Homo sapiens: one gene and its partners. The protein of the gene in region 3 purifies or fractionates together with the protein of the main gene of each other region. This does not show direct contact. Each region holds a gene or a part of one and is shown on either strand. Other genes may lie near its edges.

Region 1 (3,500 bases), on a different chromosome or scaffold from region 3:
ACAGAAGTTGTTCATGTAAATATACTTATATAGTGCACATATACAGGCTGAATATCCCAAATCCCCAATCTGAAACTTTTGAGCGCCAGCATGGGGCTCAAAGGAACTGCTCTCTGGGGCATGTCAGATTTCGGATTTGGGGCTGCACACTGGTAAGTATAATGCGGATATTCCCAGATCCAAAGCCAGAAGCATTTCAGATAAGGGATGCCCAATCTGTAATTTTGTATGTACTTTTAAACTTGTACATATTTTTAATATTGCTTTAATATATATATGTAAATACAGATAATTACCATTTTTAGTCTGTTATTTCAGTTTGTATAATTTACTTAACTGATTCTGTACTGTTGGGCATCAGAGTTGTTTCCAAATTAGTGTAATTACGAAAATCCCGAGAGACATCTTTGTGCAGACACGTTGTTCCTGCTTTGGACCATATTTCGGAAGCAGTTCTAGGAAATAGATTCTTGGACTGCATCACTATTTTTATGGCCAAAATGGGTTTCCTGCCCTCACATCGGGAATGCATATGCATCCCTGGAATCTTACTGTGTCATCATGTATGGATCAATGTTCACTTTTTGACAATTGATCGTAAGTAAAAGGGATATGATTTCCCGTTTTATTCACATCTCTCCAGGGAGGCTGAACCCATTCTTGGTTTTTGGTGACATGCTCTGGAGTTTTTGTGTAAGAATCATGATCTTCTCAGTCTTTATATGCATTCTTTTAAAATTAGACTTACACATTGATATTTGCTCCACTTATTTTTGTATGACTTGGAATTTCTTATGAAAACTAAGATTTTGGTTACTATATGAATTTTTGCACAGGGATGAGAAATGACATGTGTTGACTTCTCTCTCTCTCTTTTTCCCTAGATACTCTCTAAGTGGTGGAGGAACTTCATCCCACTGAAATTCCTTTGGCATTTGGGGTTTTGTTTTTCCTTTTTTCCTTCTTCATCCTCCTCCTTTTTTAAAAGTCAACGAGAGCCTTCGCTGACTCCACCGAAGAGGTGCGCCACTGGGAGCCACCCCAGCGCCAGGCGCCCGTCCAGGGACACACACAGTCTTCACTGTGCTGCAGCCAGATGAAGTCTCTCAGATGGGTGGGGAGGGTCAGCTCCTTCCAGCGATCATTTTATTTTATTTTATTACTTTTGTTTTTAATTTTAACCATAGTGCACATATTCCAGGAAAGTGTCTTTAAAAACAAAAACAAACCCTGAAATGTATATTTGGGATTATGATAAGGCAACTAAAGACATGAAACCTCAGGTATCCTGCTTTAAGTTGATAACTCCCTCTGGGAGCTGGAGAATCGCTCTGGTGGATGGGTGTACAGATTTGTATATAATGTCATTTTTACGGAAACCCTTTCGGCGTGCATAAGGAATCACTGTGTACAAACTGGCCAAGTGCTTCTGTAGATAACGTCAGTGGAGTAAATATTCGACAGGCCATAACTTGAGTCTATTGCCTTGCCTTTATTACATGTACATTTTGAATTCTGTGACCAGTGATTTGGGTTTTATTTTGTATTTGCAGGGTTTGTCATTAATAATTAATGCCCCTCTCTTACAGAACACTCCTATTTGTACCTCAACAAATGCAAATTTTCCCCGTTTGCCCTACGCCCCTTTTGGTACACCTAGAGGTTGATTTCCTTTTTCATCGATGGTACTATTTCTTAGTGTTTTAAATTGGAACATATCTTGCCTCATGAAGCTTTAAATTATAATTTTCAGTTTCTCCCCATGAAGCGCTCTCGTCTGACATTTGTTTGGAATCGTGCCACTGCTGGTCTGCGCCAGATGTACCGTCCTTTCCAATACGATTTTCTGTTGCACCTTGTAGTGGATTCTGCATATCATCTTTCCCACCTAAAAATGTCTGAATGCTTACACAAATAAATTTTATAACACGCTTATTTTGCATACTCCTTGAAATGTGACTCTTCAGAGGACAGGGCACCTGCTGTGTATGTGTGGCCGTGCGTGTGTACTCGTGGCTGTGTGTGTGTGATGAGACACTTTGGAAGACTCCAGGGAGAAGTCCCCAGGCCTGGAGCTGCCGAGTGCCCAGGTCAGCGCCCTGGACTGCTTGCGCACTTGCTCACCGAGATGATGCAGTTGGAGGTTGCTGATCTGTGCGATTGCTGTAGCGGTTGCCGGGGACCTTAAGAGTTATTTTGCTTCTCTGGAAGGGGCCTATGCTTGCTAGGCAGGCAGCCAGTGTGTCTGTTTTTCTTGGTTTGCTGTGGGACCTTGCTTGGCGAGGGGGAAAATCTCTGGGTTTCTGGAGTGGGAGGGTTCGTGCAGCAGCTGTTGACTGGTACATGAAGCATTCTTTTATGTTTGTTGAAGCTGATGATTGACATCTCCCGTGGGTGTGCCAGTTCTTGTGGAGTTAAGACAGGATTTTTGGAAGCAAGGAAGTTAGTGGGTGAGCTTGGGGATGTAGCTCAGCTATCTGCTGGTCTAGTGGCCTCTAAGCTATAGGGAGGGGACAGAGCCCTGAGCTACAGATGCTTGAGTGGGTTATTGTGTCGGTTTGCTAGTGCAGTCTGGTTTTTAAGCTCTAAAATTGAGGTATTTTATTAGAAGTGGATTTGGGTTGAACTCTTAATTTGTATAAGGGATATATTTTGGTTGGGGAAATAGAACTGAGTTGCTAATTCTTATTGTACTCATTACTCCATACAAGAATGTTATGTTGAATAATAAAATTGGAGAAGATTTCATTTTGTGTTTCCAGGGAGTATTCTGTGTGGGGAACTGTTTCCTTACGTGAGGCCGGCGGCATAAGTCAAAGATGAGTTTTGTCCTTGCGAATCACACAGATTGAGTCTGTGTTCCCCAGGGTGTGCCGTTACCTGATTTTTAAGTGAGCCAGGGCGGACAGCAGCTTTTCTGATTTACAGAGTTCTTCAGATTTACAAATGGACAATGACATCACAGTTTTTAGCACTGAAGCCAGTCTCATGCTAGTAACAGTGGGTGAGCCGCTCGAGGGACTGGGTTCTAATGAATACTGGTATGAACGGGGAGTCTCTGCAGTCGCCAGACAAATCATACTCAGCCCCTTCCCCCGTAGAGCAACAAGTGGTTCTTTTAGAGTTGACTGGCAGCATTTCCTGTCGGGGGAGGTGGGGTTTGATGGAGTTAGAAAGCTCGCCTCTGTGTACATTCTCTCCTGGGCTGTTACTTTCTGTAGACGCACAAAATCAGCCCCAATGTTTTTAAGGGCATCTTAGCCAAGGAAGCTGGCTTTTGTGTCGCCACTTCCAGGCCTGCATTAAGAGAGAGCCCAGGCACCAGGGCTACCACTGGAACCTGCCTCAGCGTCAACTGCTGCTGGTCTGTAGCCAGGCCCAGCCTTTGAGACGGGTTTACTGTCACCAGTAGCCTCTCAGTGCCAGCCCTGAGCTGCTCCTGGCTCAGCTGCCCAGAGCCTGCAGCCTGGGGAGGTACTCAGCCTCTGGGAGACGAGGGC
Region 2 (3,500 bases), on a different chromosome or scaffold from region 3:
TGAGATCAGTGAGAAAATGAAGGATTCAACAAATAATGGGGAGAAATGTTACATCTCAATCTAATATCTATCAAAACAAATTCTAGGCCAGGCACGGTGGCTCACACCTGTAATCCCAGCACTTTGGGAGGCCGAGGCGGGCGGATCACAAGGTCAGGAGATCGAGACCATCCTGGCTAACACGGTGAAACCCCGTCTCTACTAAAAATACAAAAAATTAGCCACCTGTAGTCCCAGCTACTTGGGAGGCTGAGGCAGGAGAATGGTGTGAACCCAGGAGGCGGAGTTTGCAGTGAGCCGAGATCGTGCCTGGGCACTCCAGCCTGGGACACAGAGCAAGACTCCATCTAAAAAAAAAAAAAAAAAAACCAAAAAAGTAAAAAAACAAATTCTAGGGAGATTAATTAAATGAGAAAACTGAAACCATTAAAAGGTGCCAATATAATATTGGCATGGGGAAGAACTTCCTGAGCCCATACTAAGGATAGAAACCCTCAAGGAAAAGACAGCCAGAGCTGACCCTGATAGGCCCTGATTTTTCAACTTTATGATGGTGTGAAAGTGATAAGCATTCAGTAGAAACGGAACTTCAAGTGCCCATACGACCATTCTGTTTTTCACTTCCAGTTTGGTATTCAACAAATTATGTGAGATATTCAACACTTTGTTATAAAATAGGCTTCATATTAGATGATTTTGCCCAACTGTAAGCTAATGTATGTTCTGAGCACATTTAGAGTAGGCTAGGCTGGCTCACGCCTGTAATCCCAGCACTTTGGGAGGCCGAGGCGGGTGGATCACGAGGTCAGGAGATCGAGACCATCCTGCCTAACACGGTGAAACCCCGTCTCTACTAAAAAATACAAAAAATTAGCCAGGCGTGGTGGCGGGCGCCTGTAGTCCCAGCTACTCAGGAAGCTGAGGTAGGAGAATGGCGTGAACCCGGGAGGTGGAGCTTGCAGAGAGCCAAGATGGCACCACTGCACTCCAGCCTGGGCGACAGAGCGATTCCATCTCAAAAAAAAAAAAAAAAAAAAAGAGTAGGCTAGGCTAAGCTATGACATCAGAGAGGTTAAGTGTATTAAATGCATTTTCTTTTCTTTCTTTTTTTTTTTTTTGAGAGGGAGTCTTGTTCTGTCACCCAGGCTGGAGTGCAGTGGTGTGATCTCGGCTCAGTGCAACCTCCGCCTCCCAGGTTCAAGTGATTCTTGTGCTTAGCCTCCCGAGTAGTTGGGACTACAGGTGCCCACCACCACGCCTGGCTAATTTTTGTATTTTTAGTAGAGACAGGGTTTCGCCCTGTTGGCCAGGCTGGTCTTAAACTCCTGACCTTAGGTGATTCACCCACCTCAGCCTCCCAAAGTGCTGGGATTACAGACGTGAGCCACCGTGCCCTGTTAAATGCATTTTTGACTATACTATTTTCCTCTTACAATGGGTTTATCAGGGCATAGCCCCATCATAAGTTGAGGAGTGTCTGTTTCAATTCACACCTTCAACAAGCATTTGCTGGGTTCCCTATATGTGCCAGATGCCATTCTAGAGTAAGAGAAACAGAACCCATCAAGATGGAGTTTAAATTCTACAAGGTAAAACTAAATTGTAGGCAAAGTAAAAAGCAGTTACTGAGAAAATAATTTGTGACTTAATAGTGTTGGTGAGCATTATCATATAAACATTTCACTAATGTGTACAAAAAACTCACAGACCAATGGAGACCAGAGTGACCAGCACGCTGAGTGATTCCTGAGAGGAAAAGCATGGAATGCCAGGACACAGGGGCCAGGCTGGCCTCACCGACAGTCCGCAGGGATGCAAAGTGAAATGATGGGGCTGCTCGATGGGGCTGCTTACCTTACCCACTTGGGAAGAGTAAGAGAGACAGGTGCCTAGCACTTTCCATGGTGGAGGGAAAGATGCATGTTTAGACCTAGCTCCTGCAGGTGGGAAGGTCAGCTGGCGCAGGTGCTCCAACAGCAATTTAGCAGGAGTGCCCAAGGCCGTAAACACCTTTGCTCAGACAAATCTACATTTTGGAATTGATCTGAAGGACATAATTAAGGATGTGCAGAAAGACAGAGATCCAACAATGTTACAGTCCTCAACAACCAGCCACAGCCAAGCGTCCAGTGACAGGTGACTAGTTAAGTGAACTGGGGCTGCCATGAAAGGAAAGGAAAACCAGTGTCCTGACAAAACAGCCCGTGGGTGATGGCAACCATGCAGCAGATGCCTGCAGCCATCACTGCTGAGTGGGTACGATGATAGAGTTCTTTTTCTTGTTTCTTTTCTCTGTGTTTTTTTTTTTTTTTTTTTTTTTTTTGAGACGAGGTCTCACTCTGTCACTGGGGCTGGAGTGCAGTGGTACGATCACGGCTCACTACAGCCTTGACCTCCTGGGCTTAAGTGATTCTCCCATCTCAGCCTCCCAAGTAGCTGGGACTACAGGCACACACCACTTTTGCTCAGCTAATTAAAAAAAAAAAAAAAAAAAAAAGATTTTTGGAGATTTGGCTTCGCCATGTTCCCCAGGCAGGTCTCAAACTCTCAGCTTCAAGCGATCCTACCATCTTGACCTCCTAAAGTGCTGGCATTACAGGCGTGAGCCACAGCAACTGGCCAGTGATGAGTGATTTCTGTCTTATACTTTCAATTATTTTTTTCTATAATAAAGGTGTAATTTTTAAAAGTATACTTTAAAACAAATGGGGTCTGCTTCCGGTGGTGGCAGATGAGCTAATTCAAACTGACCTCTTCTTGCTGAGGGCCTGAGAAGTGGAATTAAATTTTACAAACACCTGCCTGAGGGTTTTGGCGCTCATTGTCAGGAGGAGGCAGTGCAGAGGGATAAGACCCTTGAAGAAAGAACAGGGAAAGAGGACCCCAGGGAGGGAGGACCCCACTGGGGGAGGAAGGACTCCAGGGAGGGAGGACCCCAGGGAGAGAGGATCTCAGGGAAGGAGGACCCTACTGGGGGAGGGCCCTGGGGGAGGAAGACCATGGGGAGGGAAAATCCCAGGGAGGGAGGACCACAGGGAGCAAAGGAGGACCCCAGGAAGGGAAGATCCTAGGGAAGGAGGACCCCAGGGAGGGAGATCCCAGGAAGGGAAGATCACAGGGAGTGAGGGAGGACCTCAGGGAGGGAGGACTCCAGGGAGGGAATATCCCAGGGAGAGAGGACTACAGGGAGCAAGGGAGGACTCCAGGAAGGGAAGATCCTAGGGAAGGAGGACCCCAGGGAGGGAAGATCCCAGGAAGGGGAGATCACAGGGAGTGAGGGAGGACCTCAGGGAGGGAGGGAGAAGCCGATGGAGGGAAGATCCCAGGGAGGGAGGGAGGACTCTAGGAAGGGAAGATCCTAGGAAAGGAGGATCCCAGGGAGGGAGGACCACAGGGAGGGAAGATGCCAGAGAGGGAGGGAAGATCCTAGGAAGGGAAGATCCCAGGGAATGAGGGAAGATCCCAGGAAGGGAAGATCCCAGGGAGGGAGGGAGGACTCT
Region 3 (3,500 bases):
ATGTCCCCATGCTCTCCCACATCAGCCACAGTGGCCTTCTTTCCGCTCCCTGAGTTCATTCCCACCTCAGGGCCTTTGCACCAGCTATACCCGTGGCCTAGAATGCTCTTTCCCTAGATCTTTAAAAGAGCTTCTTCTGCCACTCAGGGCTCAACTCCAACACTGCCTCCTGAGAAAGGCCCTCTCTGACCCCTGGCACTGCATCATGGAGTGATGGAGCACCATAGCACTCAGTAGAACTGAAGCTCCCTTTTCTATGTGTTTACTGATTCCCTGCCTATCTCTGTACTAGGATGTAAGTTCAGTGAGGGTGGGGACTATGTCATGTTCACGGCTGTGTCCCCAGAGTCCAGTGCAATGCTTGGCACACAGCAGGCCTTTAGAAGTATTTGTTAGATGAATAACAGGGATTATCATCATGCCTATTTGTGGCAGAGGCTAAGAGAGATTGAGGAACTGCTCGGAGTCACAAAGCTGGAAAGCAGCAAGGCTGAGATTCTGATGGAATGCTAGATTGTCAAAGAAATAATCTTACGGTCCCTTTTATGGTGGGATCCAAGCCAGGGACTGTGGGAAACCCAAGGGCAGGGCTGGAGGTGGGGCCCACCAGGGAGGGCTCCAGAGGCCAGCATGCTCTATAAGACACAGGGGCAAGTGCATGGGTGCAGGACCTGACAGCAGACATACAATACAGGTATGGGTAGGCACATGCACACATGTACACATGCCCAGACACACGCGCACGTGCACACACACATGCGCACACACATGCACAATACACACACACGCACACACTCACACACACACAGAGACACACACATGCACACACGCACGCACACACGCACACATACACACGCACACGTGCAGACACATGCACACACACGTTCACAGACATGCACACACGCACGCACACACACATGCACACAGACACACACACACGCACACACACAGAGGGAACTGGGCAGCCGCTCATGAGGCAATCCCCCTAATTTGCCTGGTAAGGTGGACAAGGCACTGGCAGGCCTATGGGCAAGGTTAAGGGCAGCGAGATCTACATCATCGGGCATCCAGGGTCAAAACCATCCTGGGTATGCAGAAGGGACTGGGATCAGAGAAAATTGTTCTGGAATGTCAGTGTGGTGGCAAGGCTGAGACCACAGCTGACCCAGGGAAGCAAATCTAGGAGCACCAGGACCCTCACGTTTTGCTTCCAGTGGGCTAGGGGAAGTTGGGCACAAAAAAACCCCTCTCTGACCTCATGTCCCCACGTGCACCATTGATACCTAACCAGTTCCAAGTCCTGGACCTCTTTGTGCACTTGATGGAAGATCCTGCCCTGGAAATCTCACAAATGTGTGCAACATTTAGAGTATATCTGGAAAGGCTCAAAGCCCTCTATCCATCCTTGATTCCATACCCTAATCTGGACAGTCTCCAAGGACCTGCCAACCAACATTGGATACTTGGAGAGAGCTCCATGAGGGTTACTTGGCAAAGAAATCTTTCTTGGACCTATTCTCTGCCCCCTGGAAACCCACCCTGAACACCCCCACTGGTTCACTACTCTTCCCCAAAATCCCAACCCAAGATTCCCTAGATCACCCAGATTTTAGCACATGGGCTAGGATCTTCAGACACACAAACACATGTGAACACACATGAACACACAAGACACACACAGACACTTAAAAGAGATGATCAATGCAAACATGTGGCATGTAGGGAGTGTCAAAACAGACCCTGAACAGCGATGCCCACACCGCAATGGGGCCTAGGATGGCCAGGCCTGGAGTGCTCCAGGGCTCCACAGGACCTGCTAGGCCACTGGCAGCATGGGCAGTAGGGTGCTGCCAGGAAGCCCTCAGTTGGGCCCCCCTAACCATGCTCCCTTGTAGCCTCTGCCAACCAAGGGGCCTGGAGTTAAGGATCTTCCCACCTCCAAGAGCTCCAGGCCCCCTCCCTAAGCCCAGGCCAGCCTCCTCCACATCCCAACTGCCCAGGGAGATGCCCAGGATAATTTGGAAGGGACGCCCACCCAGGAGCCTAGGGAACTTCCCGGATTCCACATCCCAAAGTGACCCTAAACCCTCTTAACCCACTTGGTCTTCCCAGCTTGGACCGCCTTGTGCTGCAAGGGCCTCAGACTGGGACAGTCCGGGAGAGTGGGTCAGTGCCCTTTCCTGTGTGCTCAGAAAGACCTGGCTCCAAATCCAAGCTCTGCTAGCCACAAGCTGTGTGACTTCAGGAAAACTGCCTGTCTATCTGAGCTCGGTGTCCTCCTCCATAAATGGGGGGTGCCAAGAGCATTTGTCTTCTCAAGGCACCTGTGAGGACTAAAGGAGATGGCATGTGTTCAGTGCTCAAGGGAGGGCTGCTGCCTCCCAAAACCTTCTGGGGGCTGCAAGGAACCAAGCTGGCTACCCCCAGGGGTGCCATGCCCAGGACAGCAGCACACAGCACAGGCCACTCAGCCAGCACCCATTGGATATGCGTCCTTGGCAGCTGTCAGAGCAAGTTCTGAGGCAGGGGCTTCAGAAGCCCAGCTAGAGGGTAGAGGCAAATCAAAGACTCCCGTGGGGCCAGGAGGGGGGCCAGAGAGGGCATCCCCTCCCTTTCCCAAGGCAGCTGAGGTCCCTACTGTCCTGCCCTCCCAACACCCTCACCCAAGGCCAGGCTCACTCCTATCTTTCCATCTCAGGGCACACAAGTGTAGGGCAAGGGCCAAGAACCTACGCCCTCTTTAAAGATGCCCATCCCTTTCAGGTAATGCCTGTTTGGAGTGATAACCAGCCCCCACCTGCTTTCCTTCTCTCAGTGTGGCCATCAGGGAACCAGCCCTTGCCTTGGGCTCATGTTCTCATGGTCAGGCAGGCAGAAGTCCCCGGGGCTGCATGCACATTTGCATCTTATCCTGCATGTGCTCTGCTGGGATTCTCAGGGGCCCTTGGAGCTTGCTCCACAAAGGTCATTCCTAGACATCTCCCAGCTTGCTTCTCTCCCCAACCCCCCAGCCAATTGGCACCCTCATTTGCTTAGCATTTGCGTACATCTGCATGCTGGTTGAAGAGCCCTTAACACTAATGAAATCCACAAAGTCTGCTGTCAAATTTCAAATCATGTTTACAGCTGGTGACTCTATGCCCAACTGACTTCCCTACGGGGTGAACCCTCAGTTATCAGGAACCACAAAGGACTAAGCTGTCTTGGTCAAGAGAGTTCACAGCCAGACTGACCACTGGGCCACCTTCCTCCAACTTCGGAGGGCACTGGACTCACACTGCTTCAACCCACAGGCTCATGGAGCCCACAGGCTAACATGAGCCTGTGGGTTGAGAGTTGAATCCTGAGAGCTACAATGGACTGACCAAGTGCAAATCCTCCCAACCAGCCCAGCCTCGGATACAACACCTGGGCAGAGGCAGACCTGAGAGAGCTCCACCTCTGAGTAGCTCCCCACAGTCTGCTTCAACAGCCAAGAGACAGAAACCAAGAAGCTTCCT

Evidence for each region. The genes of interacting proteins can lie anywhere in the genome.
Region 1: the proteins of PSD2 (region 3) and FARP1 purify together in Homo sapiens (affinity purification with mass spectrometry; one large-scale study listed by BioGRID and IntAct). This does not show direct contact.
Region 2: the proteins of PSD2 (region 3) and FARP2 purify together in Homo sapiens (affinity purification with mass spectrometry; one large-scale study listed by BioGRID and IntAct). This does not show direct contact.

The regions. Positions count from the first base shown.
Region 1 is NC_000013.11:98,450,594-98,454,093, reverse strand, and holds part of FARP1 (FERM, ARHGEF and pleckstrin domain-containing protein 1), read right to left. Parts: 3' UTR 922-3,500; coding exon of another isoform or gene 885-921; 3' UTR 1-884. Other genes in the region: STK24 (serine/threonine-protein kinase 24 isoform a precursor), read left to right, coding at 885-921. UniProt on the Homo sapiens protein: Functions as a guanine nucleotide exchange factor for RAC1. May play a role in semaphorin signaling.
Region 2 is NC_000002.12:241,485,285-241,488,784, reverse strand, and holds part of FARP2 (FERM, ARHGEF and pleckstrin domain-containing protein 2), read right to left. Parts: intron 1-3,500. UniProt on the Homo sapiens protein: Functions as a guanine nucleotide exchange factor that activates RAC1. May have relatively low activity. Plays a role in the response to class 3 semaphorins and remodeling of the actin cytoskeleton.
Region 3 is NC_000005.10:139,802,308-139,805,807, reverse strand, and holds part of PSD2 (PH and SEC7 domain-containing protein 2), read right to left. Parts: intron 1-3,500.